Linked DNA regions of Homo sapiens. The protein of the gene in region 1 interacts with the protein of each later gene in a biochemical or structural test. Each region holds a gene or a part of one and is shown in the gene's direction. Other genes may lie near its edges. The genes, in order: TRIM11 and PHLPP1.

Region 1 (3,660 bases):
TGTCATGGTGGTGGGTTGTTGGGAAAACGTCCTCTGCTCATACTTCTGACATCAGTTGTGTGGGTATTTTCACACCAAACAATTCTTCAACTTCTGGAAACGAATTGGGTATCCAAGGATTCCATTCAGCATTGAACAGAATTGCCAGTGCTGACACTACAGGAGTTAGTACAGACCCCACAGATTAAGGGCTCAGTCCCATAAGACTGCCCCCACTTCAGATGCCAGTCACAACTTCCAGGGGCTGCCCATACTTCTGTTCCCTCAGCGCCTCTGCAGATGTGAGCATTCGCTAGCACAGCCCATGGAACTCAGAAGAGCACTTTACTTACTGTCATTGGTTTATTGTGAAGGATACCACTCAGGAAGAGCCAAATGGAAGAGACACATGGGCAAAGCCTGGGGAAGGGCTCAGAGCTTTCCCACCCTCCCTGGGTGCACCTTCCCAGCACCTCAGTGTGCTCACCAACCTGGAAACTCCCTGAGCCCCAAGAGCTGTTTAGGTGTCTTTGTGGAGGTTCCATTACATGGTTATGATTGATTAAATCATTGGTCATTGGTGATGGGGCTCAACCTCAGACCCCTTTCCCCTTCCTGAGGTCAGAGGCTGGGGCTGAGTGTTCCCGCCCTCTACTGACAGGATTGGTCTTTCTGGTGGCTGGCCTTATGCTGGGCTCTCAGGTCCCCACCTCAGCCACTGCAGTGGCATCAACTCAGGTGTGATGGAAAGGGGCATCTTATGATAGCACAAGATGCTTCTATCAGTCAGGAAATTCCCAGGGTTCTGTGAGCTCTGCGCCAGGAACTGGGCACAAAACCCAAATCTGAGTCTTGTATCACAGTCACCCAAAGGAAGTACTATCCTCAGCTCTTGCTAGCAGGTCAGGAGCCTGTTGTGTAGGAACTGTGTGCAGGCCTCCAGAGGTGGATAGATCTGAAATCGGAGTGGTCAGGGTTGGGACAGCTGCCCTAATTCACATCCTTCATTTGGAGATTGAAAGGAAAAACAGACTGGATGCATTGGCTCACCTCTGTAATCCCAGCACTTTGAGAGGCTCAGGCGGGAGGATTGCTTGAGGCCATCAGTTCAAGACCAACCCGGGAAACATAGCAAGACTCCCATCTCTACAAATAAAAAACAAAAAAATGAGCCAGCCATGGTGGCACACGCCTGTAATCCCAGCAGCTTGGGAGGATCTGAGGCGGGAGGATCATTTGAGCCCAGGAGATCAAGGCTGCAGTGAGCCATGATCGCACCACTGCACTGCAGCCTGGGGCCACAGAGCAAGACCCTGCCTCTTTAAAAAAAAAAAAAAAAGCAACCAAGATTCCCTCTTGATATCTGAAGGCAAAACATGGACCAATTTGTAGGACATTGTAAGTTGCAACTGGACGTAGCTAAGTGGGGAGAGGATGTCCACTTGGAGACAGTTAGTTACTCCAGGAGGTTGTGAGGCTACAGGCCCAGGGCAGAGAGCCAGGCCGTCCGACTGGGAGGATTGTACCTACATGCCCAGGACATGGGCAGATGGCCCCAGCTTGCCTGTGGCTGTGCCTGGGTGACCTTGGGCCTCTCTCTGCAGGGGACGTGACCTTGGACCCGGACACCGCCAACCCTGAGCTGATCCTGTCTGAAGACAGGCGGAGCGTGCAGCGGGGGGACCTACGGCAGGCCCTGCCGGACAGCCCAGAGCGCTTTGACCCCGGCCCCTGCGTGCTGGGCCAGGAGCGCTTCACCTCAGGCCGCCACTACTGGGAGGTGGAGGTTGGGGACCGCACCAGCTGGGCCCTGGGGGTGTGCAGGGAGAACGTGAACAGGAAGGAGAAGGGCGAGCTGTCCGCGGGCAACGGCTTCTGGATCCTGGTCTTCCTGGGGAGCTATTACAATTCCTCGGAACGGGCCTTGGCTCCACTCCGGGACCCACCCAGGCGCGTGGGGATCTTTCTGGACTACGAGGCTGGACATCTCTCTTTCTACAGTGCCACCGATGGGTCACTGCTATTCATCTTTCCCGAGATCCCCTTCTCGGGGACGCTGCGGCCCCTCTTCTCACCCCTGTCCAGCAGCCCGACCCCGATGACTATCTGCCGGCCGAAAGGTGGGTCCGGGGACACCCTGGCTCCCCAGTGACTCGGGCCCTCCTGGAGGAGTCCTGTTGCCTCTCCTGCCCCTCCAGGCCACTGAGTGTTTTGGCCACTTGGAGGACCTGGGAGGAGGGAGTGTGTCCTTTGAGCAAGAGGAGGAACTCCTGGTGCCTTTCTGAGCCTGCGTGGGAGAACCCCAATTCTAGCACTCCAGGAAACTGTGGGAGAGTGTGGGGCAGGCTCCGTCCTCCCTGGGAGACCCCTCCAGCCACCGGGTGCCACTTAATGCCAACAGCCCTTACCAAAGCTGGGAGCCCCATTGCCCCGGCAGCTCTGGCCTGTGGTTCCAGAAGCTGAGAAAACTCCACTGGGGCTTGCAGAATCCAGGGTTCACCTAAGCTGCACAGTTCCTGCAGCTTTGCCAGCCCCCTGAAAGTCTTGTGTACCCCACCTCTGAAGATGCTGGGGGAGGCAGCTGGGATGGGAGCCAGCCCCATGCCTGTCTGTGACCCCACAGTGGGTGAGAGCCCGTCACAGTCCTGGGTGTGGCTGCTCTGGAAGAATTAGGAGGCAGCCATAATAAGAGTCTTCAGAGAGATGATGGGAGGGGCCAGTGAGGACAGGAACAGAGAGTAGATGTCCTATAATAAAGGGGCTTCTGGGAGGTGCCTGGGCACAGATGTCTGTTCAGCAGGTGTGTGGGCCTAGAGGAGAGAGCAGAGCCCAGAAATGTCTTTTGCAGGCCCACGTTCTGACTTGAAGCTTTCGTGGGCATGTTGCCATTGGGTTTTGCCCTTGCAAAGGCTTCCTAGGTCTCCAGTGGCCCCTCAGGACCCAGGGTCCCAGCTGCTGCTTGGGGATGTGCACTGCTGGCCGCCGGCCTTGCAGTCTCTCTACCCTGGGGAGGAACAGTGGCTTCTCAGAGCCTGGGGCATACAGAAGAAGGCAGGAGTTGATTTTTGTGTTGGGTTTGGGGTTTCTTTGTCCTCAAGGTACTGTTCTGTTTCTCTTTACCCCTCTGCTTTATTTATTGTAAGCATTCCCACGTTAAATAAACTTTGGCTGTTGTCTACAAGTCATCCTGCTGGTGCCTGCTTAGTCCAGGAACAATAGCGGGTGCCCCACTGCCCAGCAGAGGGCAGAGCCCCAGGGAGGCTGTTGACGGGGCAGGCGGGAAGCTCAGGCAAAGTAAGGGCCGGGACGGGCAGCCACTTCCCACACCCAGGCACAGATGGGCTCTCCACTTTCTGTGCTCAATATATATGTTCCTTATGTGGAGCTATTGCCGGAATGTTTTTTTCGAGATATCCTGGTAAATGTTTCCTGCATTCCATTGTGCTTAACGAGTAGTCTCCTGATTATCATTTATTCAGTCACTCTCCCATTCTTGTCTTTTTTTTGGCAGGGGCCTGGGGGGGCATTATGTAATACCATGTTGAACAAGATCAGCAGTTTCATTCAGCTGCAACAAAGAGAAGTCTGAGTGGAAACCAGGGGACTGGGCATTTCTCTGTGTTGGGGTGGGGTTTTTGTTTGTTTGTTTGTTGTTTTTTGAGACAGGGTCACCCATGCTGG
Region 2 (8,329 bases), on another chromosome or scaffold:
AGGGAACATATTAATTCAGTTTGGCCACCTGGGGCCCATTTAGTGCACTAGAGCAGTAATTTGCTAAATGGGTCCCTCATAGTAAAAAAGAATGAGTAAACAGTGAACAATTTAGGCATGGTAAACCACTAGTAGCTCAAGGGATATAAAAATGTGAAACTATAATTAGATCCCTTGTTCATAATGTAGGAACTAAATGTATTACATTGTATATTGCATCTTTCTGAGTTTATTTCTGGACACAGCTGAGCCCTTAACAACTCAGACTGAAATCATCCCAGCTATCAATTTATGCCTCTATTAAAATTCCAACTGCTTATATTAGAAAATAAACCTCCAAAGATGACTTCTTTTATCTTAGTTCTAAGGATTCAAACAGAATTAACCTAGATGCAGATCATAGCAAGTCAGTTATAAATCACACAGCATAAAGTAAACTGTGGCAATAAATTGAAAATTGTGTTCTCCTTTTCTAAACTTAGATGTGAAAATATTTTAACAAGTTGGCATCAGGATTCACAACTTTTGCATCTGATGTTTCTTTTCAGGATTATCTTTTAGCATTTCAAAATGGGATTCTTTGGAAAGTGTGGTTAGTCAGAAATGTGGTATTAGAACGTACATTTGGAACACTTTAAAGGGGGGCATTCATGATGTATGTGGTTTTAGGATACTGGTGTATTCCCCACTCCACTTTCAAGTAGGAGAAGCTGCCATTTCATGGGTGTCTGGAACACATTTGTCTTTTATTGAAATCTTTTTCTTATTTGGAGAAATTGTATAGAGTGCATTGGCACAGATGGTCTGGGTGATGTTTCCCGATACTAGCAAGCTCTAAGTACAAGTTTCATTGCCCTTTATCAATTTGTTCTTTCAACTACAAGGATCCAGTTGATCTGGCGGTAAGGGATTGTTTATTCTTCAGGAGCTCTCATTTTCTTTCTGTTTCTTCTCTTACCCCAAGCTTAGTAACATCACTGGGGGCTTGGGTCAGAACAAGGGAAGGATTACACAGTGGACCCCGGCCCTTTTGCTCTCCCCTTAGCTCTGATTTACATTATTCTGCATACAATGGAATATGTCATCTTCAGATGATGGACTCTATGCATGAAATCCAGGAAAATTGTATTTTAGGTCCCCACCCCTCCAAACACTGTTTTTATGAGGTAGGAATGTATTTCCTTCTTCGTTATGCTGAGGTACTGTAACAATATTCATCCTGTTCATTTCCTGCCTCCTCCCGACACCACTTAGTATTAGGTATCCCAGTACCAAGCCCCTATCTGCCAGGAGTGTATGATGGCTCTCCAGTCCCCATTTCCCCATTATTTGGATACTAAATCCTCTGAGCAATGTCTTTATTTTTTTTTTGAGACAGAATTTCTCTCTTGTTGCTCAGGCTGGAGGAGTGCAATGGCGCAATCGCGGCTCACTGAGTCCTCCGCCTCCTGAGTGGCTGAAATTACAGGCACCCGCCACCACGCCCGGCTAATTTTTTGTATTTTCAGTGGAGGCGGGGTTTCGCCATGTTGGCCAGGCTGGTCTCCAACTCCTGGCCTGAGGTGATCCGCCCGCCTTGGCCTCCCAAAATGCTGGGATTACAGGCGTAAGCCACTGCGCCCAACCTGAGCAATGTTTTTGGTACAAATTTTTTTCCCCTTGAAAAAGGTGTTTTAGTTATAAATACCTTCAAAGAGTAAACAAAATTGCTAGAGAATAAAAAAGGCAGAGTTGCGGTGATTGTGTAATGTTAAATAATAGGAACCATGGGTGGATTCAATGCGGTATTGTAATTTCTTAGAGAAGGAGCAATGGCGATAGAATTTATGATTAGAAGAAACATTCTGGGTTAGGTGTGGTGGCTCACGCCTGTAATCCCAGCCCTTTGGGAGGCCGAGGCAGGTGGATCACTTCAGGTCAGAAGTTTGAGACCAGCCGGGGCAATATGGTGAAACCCCATCTTTACAAAAAAATTTAAAAAGTAGCTGGGCGTGGTGGTATGCGCCAGTAGTCCCAGCTACTCAGGAGGCTGAGGCAGGAGAATCGCTTGAACCCCGGAGGCAGAGGTTGCATTGAGCTGAGATGGCACCATTGCACTCCAGCCTGGGCAACAAGAGTGAAACTCCATCTCAAAAAATAAATAAATAAATAAATAAACAAACATGCCGGCCGTGGTGGCTCTCGTTTGTAATCCCAGCACTTTGGGAGGCCGAGGCATATGGATCACCTGAAGTCAGGAGTTTGAGACCAGCCTGGCCAACATGGCAAAACCCTGTCTCTACTAAAAATACAAAAATTAGCCGGACGTGGTGGTGTGTGCCTGTAATCCCAGCTACTTGGGCGGTTGAGGCAGGAGAATCGCTTGAACCTGGGAGGTGGAGGTTGCATTGAGCCGAGATGGCGCCACTGCACTCCAGCCTGGGTGACAGAGGGAAACTCCGTCTAAAAAAAAAAAGAAAAAATAAAAATAAAATAAATAAATAAATATAAAGGGGTTTGTAGGAAATCAACTAAGGAATATAAAGAGGTATACAAATTCCATGTTTTAGTACTGAAATTTAACATGTGCCTTGTTTTTTAAATTTTATTAAAGGATGCCTAAATTAAAGGACTATTCTTTCAATTTCTAGAACAAATAGTTTGTGTCGGGGCTACTGAAGGCACAACACAGATCAGTGTAGTTGAAATTTATCTCAATATAATTACCTCTTTGGTTCTTCCCTTTCTTTCAGAGACTGATCCTTCAACAAATGCACATTTTCACTGACTCCAAAAAATTTCATTCAAACTTTGGTCTGTATTGCCTGACTTCTTAGACTAGGTTAGTTCCTCTTGTTTTATGTCTATTTCTGTGGCACCTTGTATTTTCCCCTTCTGTACTTCTGCTGCATTTTTTGAATGTTATTCTTTCTAACCTGTAAACTCTATGAAGGCAGGGACAGTGTGTGATTTATTCAACTGCTATAACACGGTGACTGGTACATAATAAATGTTTGTAATTATCTGTTAAATTAATTGACTTGAAAATGTTATCACTCTTGGGAGAACTTGCAATCTCCCTAATTTTTCATATGTTGCTGTTGATTGAATTTAAATAAAATACATATTATTAATAGATTCATGAGGCTAAGGGGTGAAACTTTAAATGAAAATACAGAAAATCATCAGGAATGTAAAAAATCATTGAGAAATATTTATTTTTATCTCCACAGCTTCTTCATTCTTGTTCAATGAAACTGTGATAACCTAAGCGGTAAGTTCCAGTTGGTCTCTCTCTCCAACCCCCTTCACTCTTCATCTGCAAGTTTAGTCACTTTATTGAGGTTAAAACAGGTCATAGATAGTATGTGGTTTAAAACTGTTTAAAAGTTTCACATGTGAAAATCCGGATTTAGGGCCTGGCGCGGTGGCTCACGACTGTAATCTCGGCACTTTGGGAGGCTGAGGCGGGCAGATCGCTTGAGACCTGCCGGGGCAGCATGAAGGGACTTCCCACCCCCACTAAAACAATACAAAAAATGAGCCGGGCTTGGTGGCAAGCCCTGTAGTCCCAGCTACTCGGAGGATGAGGTGGGAAAATCACCTGGGCCCGAGAGGCGGAGGTTGCAGTGAGCCCAGATCGCGCTACCGCACTCCAGCCTGGACGACAGACCCACTCTGTGGCCAAAAAAAAAAAAAAAAAAAAGAAAAAAAGAAAAAAGAAAGAAAAAAAGAAAAGAAAAATCCCGAATTACAAAGCAATTGGGGGAATGGTAATTCAATTAAAAAGGTGTACAACATTCTTTTAAATAGTAAACTGCCCAATGATTACAACATTGATTCAACTGACGAAAAATACAACTTTTCAGACCACGACTAAACATTGTGGCAGTAGAAACTATTTTTTTTTTCCCTGAATGATGAAAGAAAAAAACCAGAGAAGACGTTAAGACAGAACACGTGGAAAAAGCCCATCTCATACTCCATTCTAATGTTTCTTCTACTTACCAGTGCTTTCTGTGTCATTAAACTACTTCAGACTTCAAGAGCAATGGGAAACAATGAAACCTCAGTCCTTTGCTATTTTCCTTTTCAGGTACAGGAGAGGGAGAGGACAGACTTAGGGTTGTGCCTTCGAACAAGCACATTCAACGACAGCCTCAGTTAGAATTCCCAGACGCTGCCTGTCTTCCTGGGTCTTGAAAAAGTGGGGAAAAAGTGAGGTTGGCCCACTCAGACTGCCAGTGATGCTGTGGTGTGACGGGTGTGTATCTCTATCTCATACAATGGGCGCAGGTGAGGACCAGGACCTGCGACCTTCGTACGTTTACAGTCCCTGAAAGCCCTCACCTTTAATTAGTAGGGAAAATAAAAGTCATCTGGCAAGCTGGAGTGCGGGTAAAATACAAGTTAATGAACATGAGCATTCGTGTTCATTAAGAACTCTGGCACAGAGTTCAACGGCAGAGGGCACAATACTCACTGGCCACGGCCAGCTGCTGGCGGCCAGGAGAAGCAGAACCAAAGGACCGCTGGGACTTGTAGTCCACCATGTTTCCCTCGGGATTGCCGATCCCCTTACGAGAACCACAACTCCCAAGGTTTACCGCGCGCGTCGGTCTTCACTGCCCTCTCCGAGGCCGGCTCAGGAACCTCCCGGGAAACTGCCCCCCACCCCGCCCTCGTACGCACGCGTCACGTTTGTTTACCCTGAAGCTCCGCCTCCGGCCATCCCCTGGCTCTCCCCACTCCTCCCTGGAATGCCGTCATGCCGGCGATGAATATTTATGAGGCACACGCGGCCCTCCCGCCCTGCCAGCCTCCCGCCTTCCCGCTCCCGGCGCATGATTAATATTCAATGAGCCCAGATCCGCGGCTGGTTCGCCGGGTTGAGGCGGGGGTAGCGGGCGGGGCCGGCGCTGGGGAGCCCGCGACCCGGGCGGGGAGGGCGTGTGTCGGGGGGGCGGTGGCGGCGAGGCGGGCGCGCGGGATGGAACACTGAGACACCGACGGAATGCTCCGAATCGCCACATAATCCCCTGGAACGGCCGCGCACAACGCCATTGGCTTCTCCCTTCTCCGCGCGCCGCCGCCGTCTCCCACCTCCGCCTCATCGCCTCCCTCTCCGCCCGCTGCCTCCGGAGCTGGGGGGGAAACGCGAAGCCCCACTGCAATGGAGCCCGCCGCCGCGGCCACGGTACAGCGACTCCCCGAGCTCGGCAGGGAGGACCGAGCTTCGGCTCCGGCGGCCGCCGCTGCGGCAGCAGCAGCAGCAGCGGCGGCCGCGGCGGCTCTGGCGGCGGCGGCCGGGGGCGGCCGGAGTCCGGAGCCCGCGCTGACCCCGGCGGCCCCGAGCGGCGGGAACGGCAGCGGCAGCGGGGCGCGGGAAGAGGCCCCAGGCGAGGCGCCGCCGGGGCCGCTGCCGGGCAGAGCGGGGGGTGCCGGGCGCAGGAGGCGGCGCGGGGCGCCCCAGCCCATTGCCGGCGGGGCTGCCCCCGTACCCGGGGCCGGCGGCGGCGCCAACTCCCTCCTGCTGAGGAGAGGGCGGCTGAAGAGGAATCTGTCCGCGGCCGCCGCGGCCGCCTCCTCGTCGTCGTCGTCCTCGGCCGCTGCTGCCTCGCACTCCCCCGGCGCTGCCGGCCTCCCCGCCTCCTGCTCGGCCTCGGCGTCGCTGTGCACCCGGAGCCTGGACAGGAAGACGCTGCTTCTGAAGCACCGGCAGACGCTGCAGCTGCAGCCGTCGGACCGGGACTGGGTGAGGCACCAGCTCCAGCGCGGCTGCGTGCACGTCTTCGACCGCCACATGGCCTCGACCTACCTGCGCCCGGTGCTCTGCACACTGGACACCACGGCCGGCGAGGTGGCCGCCCGCCTGCTGCAGCTGGGCCACAAAGGCGGCGGCGTGGTGAAGGTGCTGGGCCAGGGGCCCGGAGCCGCCGCCGCCCGGGAGCCCGCTGAACCGCCCCCCGAGGCCGGCCCCCGGCTGGCGCCCCCGGAGCCGCGGGACTCGGAGGTACCGCCCGCGAGGAGCGCGCCGGGTGCCTTCGGGGGGCCTCCGCGCGCGCCCCCCGCCGACCTACCCCTGCCCGTCGGCGGCCCGGGCGGGTGGTCGCGCCGCGCCAGCCCAGCGCCCTCGGACTCCAGCCCCGGCGAGCCGTTCGTTGGGGGCCCTGTCTCTTCGCCCCGCGCCCCACGGCCTGTGGTCTCCGACACCGAGAGCTTCAGTCTGAGTCCCAGCGCCGAGAGCGTGTCTGACCGGTTGGACCCCTACAGCAGCGGCGGCGGCTCCTCGTCGTCGTCGGAAGAGCTCGAGGCCGACGCAGCCTCGGCCCCGACGGGGGTCCCGGGCCAGCCCCGCCGTCCCGGCCACCCCGCGCAGCCCCTCCCGCTTCCCCAGACGGCTTCCTCGCCTCAGCCGCAGCAGAAAGCCCCGAGGGCCATTGACAGCCCGGGCGGGGCCGTCCGCGAGGGGTCGTGCGAGGAGAAGGCAGCGGCAGCCGTGGCCCCGGGAGGCCTCCAGTCTACCCCCGGGAGGAGCGGGGTGACCGCGGAGAAGGCGCCTCCGCCGCCCCCGCCGCCCACCCTGTACGTGCAGCTCCACGGAGAGACCACCCGGCGCTTGGAGGCGGAGGAGAAGCCATTGCAGATCCAAAATGACTACCTCTTCCAACTGGGATTTGGGGAGCTGTGGAGGGTGCAGGAGGAAGGCATGGACTCGGAGATTGGCTGCCTCATCCGCTTCTATGCAGGTAAGGAAGTCACCTGCCTTGACGGGTGGTTGCAAAAGCTGCCGAGGACCGAGGAGTGATTCAAATTGCTTGTCAGTTTGCCCAACCCAAGAGTAAGTGCGGGTCCTGATGAGTCTTTGTCTTAAACTTTACAGCTTTTTCATACAGTCTGTGTAGTACTAGATTGAGCAATCTTTAAATCTGCACGTTTTATCAATCTTGAGGGCTCAGAGGTTGGAAAGCAATGTGAAAGAGGTGGCTGAATCACCAGGAAGTACAGGAAGCAGATCCCTCTGAAAGCGGCAAGAGCACCTTTAACCATAAAGGTGCTTCCTCAGGGGCATGTTGGGTTTCAGGCAGTTTGGGATTTCAGGTAAACTGTCACGTGAGCATAAGACGGACAGAAGAAATGACAATAAAAATGCTCTATCACACTTTTGCCTGCATTTGACTGTCCAGTTGAGCGTTCTAGCTGTATGTGCCACCGGGAGCTCCTGACTTGTCAACTGGTGCCTTTGTTTATTCAGCTCTGCCACACTCATAAATTACCCACGGAGCCCTCATTAGAAATCTGACAAAAGGGTGCCTTTTTAACTGATACTTTTCCCCAGCGCTTTTTTTGCTCGATTTCTGTTTCGTCTGCAAGTTTGTCTTGCATAAAAAAAAAGATTTTGCCTGTTTCTCTCATTTTCTTCCAGCCTTTATGGTCAGAACTGACCACCGCAATACGCCTTGCAGGAAGGTTCACAAGAAGGATTTAAGTGGTTGCTATTTCTTCAGATGTGTCCTGAAATCTTCCCCCGTCTTGTTTCAGTACATTAGCAAATTCTTGACTAGGGGTGACCCATGTAATGTTTCTCTTTTGGCTGAAGATTTGGCTAGTACTAAATTCAGGAGCTATAGATGCTGGATATTGTACTTGAGTTTTCTAAGTAGTTTTACATCCCTTTCCTCCTCTGGTTTGAATAATTATGTTCTCAGTGATAAGGAATTTTATTTAAAATAAAGTTCTCATAGCAAAATTAAATCAAGAGTGTTAACTCTTCGCTAACTTTACGTTTTTAGGTTGTAGGTGATGGTGGAAAATAATCATACTTGTAACTCCATTAATTTGTAGCCATTCTTTACAATTTAATGTCTTTTGGTCCAGCTTGTGTGTCCCAGTGGCAATTTAATTAGTTTGCATGAAGAAATCTTTACATCTTTACTCCCACATTGAAATATGCAAGACTGACAGGATTCCTGGTGAGAGAGATGCCCTTTAAATTTCTTGGAAGTTTTTCTGAAATTTAAGTGGATTTCTGATGAATCTTTTACTTGTAAAGAAAACCAAATCGTAATACAGTAGCATTTGCAGTATCTGAAGACAATTTGTCAACTCGATGACATGGCTTTTAAAGTTTATGGTCCAGGAAATAGATGATTTTTTATGTAAGATCAACAACTGTATTCTTTTCTCCTTTAATTCATGTAATTTGTAAAATATTGTTATTTTACAAAAGCATTAAAAATAGGTGCCCTTTAACTACATGGAAGGAACTGTATATAAAAACAAGGGATGTATTAGAGTTTGAACAAATTTTATATGGAAAGAGTTTGCTTATGATTGGATATATCCATTG

What was found.
Region 2: the proteins of TRIM11 (region 1) and PHLPP1 form a complex in vitro, tested with the Homo sapiens proteins (one study listed by BioGRID).

What each region holds. Positions count from the first base shown.
Region 1 is NC_000001.11:228,393,176-228,396,835, reverse strand, and holds the end of TRIM11 (E3 ubiquitin-protein ligase TRIM11), read left to right. Parts: exon of another isoform or gene 1-93; intron 94-1,029; exon of another isoform or gene 1,030-1,125; intron 1,126-1,583; coding exon 1,584-2,131; 3' UTR 2,132-3,160; downstream 3,161-3,660.
Region 2 is NC_000018.10:62,710,532-62,718,860, forward strand, and holds the start of PHLPP1 (PH domain leucine-rich repeat-containing protein phosphatase 1), read left to right. Parts: upstream 1-5,009; 5' UTR 5,010-5,152; coding exon 5,153-6,728; intron 6,729-8,329. UniProt on the Homo sapiens protein: Protein phosphatase involved in regulation of Akt and PKC signaling.